Regions from separate parts of the Homo sapiens genome. Here region 2 is linked to region 1. A link means that fine-mapping ties the variant in region 1 to the expression of a gene that starts in the linked region. Tissue or cell type: whole blood. Region 1 holds a variant in brackets; the other region holds the start of a gene. All regions are shown on one strand. Distances are between the middles of the regions.

The links. PIP is the estimated chance that this variant, and not a neighbour inherited with it, causes the effect.
Region 2: HMOX1 starts here. The variant in region 1 is fine-mapped to the expression of HMOX1 in whole blood (TOPMed, PIP above 0.99).

The regions. Positions count from the first base shown.
Region 1 is chr22:35,408,466-35,411,370 of GRCh38, forward strand. It overlaps MCM5 (minichromosome maintenance complex component 5), which reads left to right. Exons shown (of 17, transcript NM_006739.4): 6 at 1-98; 7 at 2,279-2,445. Among named protein-coding and RNA genes, the nearest start is that of MCM5, 9.8 kb to the left of the region's middle. RefSeq lists enhancers at 1,594-1,653, 1,744-1,963, 2,044-2,183. The variant G/T (reference allele first, on the strand shown) is at 1,780.
Region 2 is chr22:35,379,730-35,382,634 of GRCh38, forward strand. HMOX1 (heme oxygenase 1) reads left to right here and starts at 1,367. Exons shown (of 5, transcript NM_002133.3): 1 at 1,367-1,467. The coding sequence starts at 1,445. RefSeq lists silencers at 1,088-1,167, 1,468-1,637.

The DNA of each region.
Region 1 (2,905 bases):
TGCAAATGCGTGGACTTCCAGACCCTGAAGCTGCAGGAGCTGCCTGATGCAGTCCCCCACGGGGAGATGCCCAGACACATGCAGCTCTACTGCGACAGGTGAGGCAGACGGGCTGGGAGGTGGGCATCTACGACGGTGGATGTCCCAGCTGTGGCCCTAACCCGAGTGTTGGGAGTGGGTCATCTGGAGCAGGGTGAGTAGGGTGGAGAAGGTGGCCAGTTGCAGAGCACCTGCTCTGTGCCTAATGCTTCCATAAGTTCCTCTCATCTCGTCTTTCCATAATCTGCAGGGGCATGTCAGCCCCATTTTGCAGATGAGGAAATGTAACTTGGAGAGATTAAATGACTTCCTGTGTGGAGGAGAGCCGGGCTTTCAGCCTATGTGCATTGCTTTCCAAAGTCTGTGTTCTTCTTAGGATAAGAGGCCCAGGATGCACAGCTAGATAACCAATAGCTGGCAAAGCCTCTTCCCAGCCTGACACCCCACCTCCTACCCCAGGCTTTCTTTTTTTTTTTGAGACGGAGTCTGGCTCTGTAGCCCAGGCTGGAGTGCAGTGGCGCGATCTCGGCTCACTGCAAGCTCCACCTCCTGGGTTAATGCCATTCTCCGGCCTCAGCCTCCCGAGTAGCTGGGACTACAGGCGCCCTCCACCATGCCCAGCTAATTTTTTGTATTTTTTAGTAGAGATGAGGTTTCACCTTGTTAGCCAGGATGGTCTCGATCTCCTGACCTCATGATCCGCCCGCCTTGGCCTCCCAGAGTGCGTGGATTACAGGCGTGAGCTACTGCGCCCAGCGTACCCCAGGCTTTCTGTTAAGATCCTGCTGAACAGCCACGGTGGCTCATGCCTGTAATCCCAGCACTTGGAGCGGCTGAGACAGGAGGATTGCTTGAGGCCAGGAGTTCAAGACCAGCCTGGGCAACATACTGAGACCCTGTATCTAAAAAAAAAAAATTTATTAGCTGGGTGTTGGGGCAGACACCTATAATCCCAGCTACTTGGGAGGCTGAGGTGGGAGAATCACTTGACCCCAGAAGGTTGAGGTTGCAGTGAGCTGTGATTACACCACTCCACTCTAGCCTGGGTGACAGAGCGAGACCCTGTCTCAAAAAGGAAAACAAAAAAGATTCTACTGAGGGGGAGAGGGTACTGAGCTTGGGCCCCTCATAGTAACCTGGGTGGAAGGTTTTGAGATCTTTGATTAGGGTTCTAACCTGGGCTTGCATATCCTGAAATTGCATGCAGATGTTCTGAGGAGAGCGGATCTGTAGCTTCTGTTAACTTCATTAGTGGCAACAGAGTATGTAGGGGTCAGGCTCTTGCTCCCTGGGCAAGTTATGTGACTTTGTCAAGCTTCAGTTTCCTCATCAGTAAAATGGGGATAAGGACAGTCCTTAATCTCTCAGAGGGCTGCTTGAAAATGCATGTGGTGTTTAGCACAATTCCTTCATGCAGATTACGTAATCAGGATGTATGATTTTCCAAGCAGTTCATGAATCCTGAAAACTTACGAAGTGGGTATGGGAAGAGGGGAGTTGGAGGCTCATGGAGTGACGGTGATGGTCTTTTCTGGAGCTGTGATGCCTGATGGTATAAAGCACTTCTATGTCTGCTGCCTCACCTGACTCCACAACATGAGAGGCAGGCCACTTCGTCATCCCCCTAGGCTCAGAGGTGCAATGACTTCGTTGAGGTCACACAGCGACTAAGTGTCCCTCCACACCACCCTGTCTCTGACTGGGGGACTTGGAGACTTCCCTGTTTCAACATCTCATTTT[G/T]AAAACAGGAAATGAAAACCCAGAGGCAAAATGAGCTCACAGAGCCATGAAGAGGCAAAAAGGGCGAGTGGCCCCTCAAGGAGGCTGGGGGGCGTGAAGAGGAAGTCTTGCCCTGAGAGGCTAAAGGGCACCACACAGTGAGCTGACAGCAGACACGTGGAGATGGGGCTTTTGGAGGGCTCTGTGGGCTGGCACTAAGCCTCCTAAACCAGCGTACAAATGAGTTAGCGAGTTCAGCGAGAGTCAGGCCACCACCTGCCTTTCTGTTTGGCTGTCACTGTGGGCAACACCATCCTCCAAGCAGCTGAGCATGGGCTGAGTGACGTGGGGAGAGAGGCCGTTCTCTGGGCTCCGTGGGGCTGGAGCCAGCTCAGCATGTGGTGCCTGTGGCAAAAATGCTGCAGTGGACCCTGCGTGTCCTGGGCATGGGTGGAATCAGAGACTTGCTGTCCAAGTCAGAATCTCAGCTTTTCTCCTTTCTCCTCTACCCTCCTCTCAGGTACCTGTGTGACAAGGTCGTCCCTGGGAACAGGGTTACCATCATGGGCATCTACTCCATCAAGAAGTTTGGCCTGACTACCAGCAGGGGCCGTGACAGGGTGGGCGTGGGCATCCGAAGCTCCTACATCCGTGTCCTGGGCATCCAGGTGGACACAGATGGCTCTGGTGAGTTGGCTTTGGGGTCCTGGCTTAGCCCTGCTAAAAGGCTGTGCTTGCATACTTCTGGTAACAGGCAGCTCGTTACTTCATGAGGTAGCCCAGGATGTCCTTGTGTTGCTCATATCATTAGAACGTTCATTTTTATATTAAGTGATCCCTGGAACTTCCACACATTGGTCCTAGCTGTGGCTCCTGGGCTGAGGGTGTTTGCCTAAGTGCAGGATTAAGGCAGAAGGACTGAGGTCAAATCACTGGGGAATTACTGAAAGCCAAGTCTTCACTTCTGTGACAGGAAATACAAGAGAAGTGAAACGCAGGGTTCCAGGCAGGCAGCCGCCTAGTGTCTAGTTGGAGAAATAAGAAAACTGTGAGACCGCTGGGGACATGTGGGTAAAGTGGTGGCTGTTGTGGGTCACGCAGTTCCAAGGAGGTGCTAAAGGAGGTCTGAGAAGGAGGAGGTCGGGGC
Region 2 (2,905 bases), 29 kb before region 1:
GCGTCTTGTTCTGTTGCCCAGGTTAGAATACAGTAGCGTGGTCACAGCTCACTCCAGCCTCTACATCCCAGGCTCAAGTGAACCTCCAGCCTCAGCCTCCCAAGTAGCTGGGACCACAGGCATGTGCCACCATGCCCAGCTAATTTATTTTATATTTTGTAGAGACAGGGTCTCCCTATGTTGCCCAGGCCAGTCTCGAACTCAAAGCAATCTTCCCACCTCGACTGGGCTCAAAGCGCTCTTCCCACCTCAACCTCCCAAAGTACTGGGACTACAGGTGTGAGCTACCATGCCAGGCCTGAAAGCCATCTTAAAAAAAAAATCTTAGAATGAGAATCACAGTATTGGGAAAGGACTGTATGAATCATCTGGTCCATTCGTTTTGTCCTCTGGGTTCACCCAGTGACCCTATTTCCCCCGAGTTCTAAGGAGTCCACCTCATGCAGAATTGATTCAATAGGCGATCAGCAAGGGCCAGCTCTGCTCTGGGCCCTGAGCAGGCACTGAGTATAAGTCAGACCTGAATGTGCCTGGAAGAGTGTCCCACGCATTCCAGCAGGGAAGCAGTTTGTATGACAGGTGTCCCAGTCCAGGCGGATACCAGGTGCTGCCAGAGTGTGGAGGAGGCAGGCGGGGACTTAGTCTCCTCCCTGGGTTTGGACACTGGCATCCTGCTTTATGTGTGACACCACTGCACCCCTCTGAGCCTCGGTTTCCCCATCTGTAAAATAGAAGCGATCTACCCTCACAGGTCAGTTGTAGGGATGAACCATGAAAATACTAGAGTCTCTGTTTTTTGACAGGAACTCAAAAAACAGATCCTAAATGTACATTTAAAGAGGGTGTGAGGAGGCAAGCAGTCAGCAGAGGATTCCAGCAGGTGACATTTTAGGGAGCTGGAGACAGCAGAGCCTGGGGTTGCTAAGTTCCTGATGTTGCCCACCAGGCTATTGCTCTGAGCAGCGCTGCCTCCCAGCTTTCTGGAACCTTCTGGGACGCCTGGGGTGCATCAAGTCCCAAGGGGACAGGGAGCAGAAGGGGGGGCTCTGGAAGGAGCAAAATCACACCCAGAGCCTGCAGCTTCTCAGATTTCCTTAAAGGTTTTGTGTGTGTGTGTGTGTGTGTGTGTGTGTGTATGTGTGTGTGTGTGTGTGTGTGTGTGTGTTTTCTCTAAAAGTCCTATGGCCAGACTTTGTTTCCCAAGGGTCATATGACTGCTCCTCTCCACCCCACACTGGCCCGGGGCGGGCTGGGCGCGGGCCCCTGCGGGTGTTGCAACGCCCGGCCAGAAAGTGGGCATCAGCTGTTCCGCCTGGCCCACGTGACCCGCCGAGCATAAATGTGACCGGCCGCGGCTCCGGCAGTCAACGCCTGCCTCCTCTCGAGCGTCCTCAGCGCAGCCGCCGCCCGCGGAGCCAGCACGAACGAGCCCAGCACCGGCCGGATGGAGCGTCCGCAACCCGACAGGCAAGCGCGGGGCGCGGGACGCGGGACGGGCGCCTTTCTCTCCCAACCCTGCTTGCGTCCTAGCCCCACCCCGGGACACTGCCACACAGCGACAGAGCCCAGGAGCCAGAAACTTGGGCTCTGGAGTCAGGAGGTGCGGGGTTCTGATCCTGCCTGTGCCCGTAGGGTAGTTGGAGGGAGGAACGGTAATTTACATGCCTGGCACCCTGGTATGCGGTTGGTGACCAAGATGGGAGTGTCCCTAGAGTATCCAGTCTTTGAGGTAGCCAATTTTTTTTTTAATCCTACTTTCGAGGTGTGTTTGGAGTTGCTCTCTGCTGAATCTAGATCTCTGGGGCTCTGCCAGCCTGGGGGAGCATGCTTGGTTCTCTTGGTGGCATCTGTCCCTCACTAGCTACGGAGGACCTGAGCCAGACATCACCCTGGCTGCGGTGTTCCATGTCTCACAGATAGCCCAGTTCAGGGAGGCGACATGCCCAAGAGTGCTCAGTTAGCTGGTGTCAGAACTGGGCCTTGAACCTTGGTCTGCCCACCTCCAGGTCTCACTCATTCCCTTCTTTCAATAATTTGTTAGTATTTTTTTTTTTAACTCCTGGGCTTAAGCATCCTCCCACCTCAGCCTCCAGAGTAGCTGGGACTTACAGACATGTGCCATTTCTCCTGAGACTTTGACCAGCTGTGTTGTAGAACAGGGAAGCAGGGCAGGAGAAAAGGGAAAAATGACAATTCTGTGGGGAGGCAGGGATACGGACCCATGACAGAAATACTCCCAGAAAGACTTTTTCTTTGACTAAAGCAGACTTTCTCAGGCTTTTTAACCCTGACGCCTTCATGATGAGCATAACATGATAGGGGGTCATGAGATTTGCATCTGGAACTTTAACAAAATAACTGAATTAAATATTGGGTCTAAAAGCCAATCAAAGCAATTACAAACTTGGAGATGCCGGTTCATGGGGCTGCTGCTTCTTCCTGGGTTATGCTGTACCTCCTCCTCCTCTCCACTGCGAACTACCTGTACCAGGATTTCCCCCTTGGTTTGGGGGACTGTATTATTTAGTGTTTTAATGACTGAAGAGTGTTTACAAAGCTGCGAGAGCCACCATGCCCAGCCTGAATTTGTTTTTTGTTTTTTGTTTTTTTGTTTTTTTGCTTTTTTGCTTTTCTTTTTTTGAGATGGAGTGTTGCTCTGTTGCCCAGGCTGGAGTGCAGTGGCGCGATCTCGGCTCACTGCAACCTCTGCCTCCTGGGTTCAAGCGATTCTCCTGCCTCAGCCTCCCAAGTAGTTGGGATTACAGGCGCCCACTACCATGCCCGGCTATTTTTTTTTTTTTTTTTGTATTTTTAGTAGAGATAGGGTTTCACCATGTTGGCCAGGCTGGGCTCAAACTCCTGGCCTCAGGTGATCTGCCCGCCTCAGCCTCCCAAAGTGCTAGGA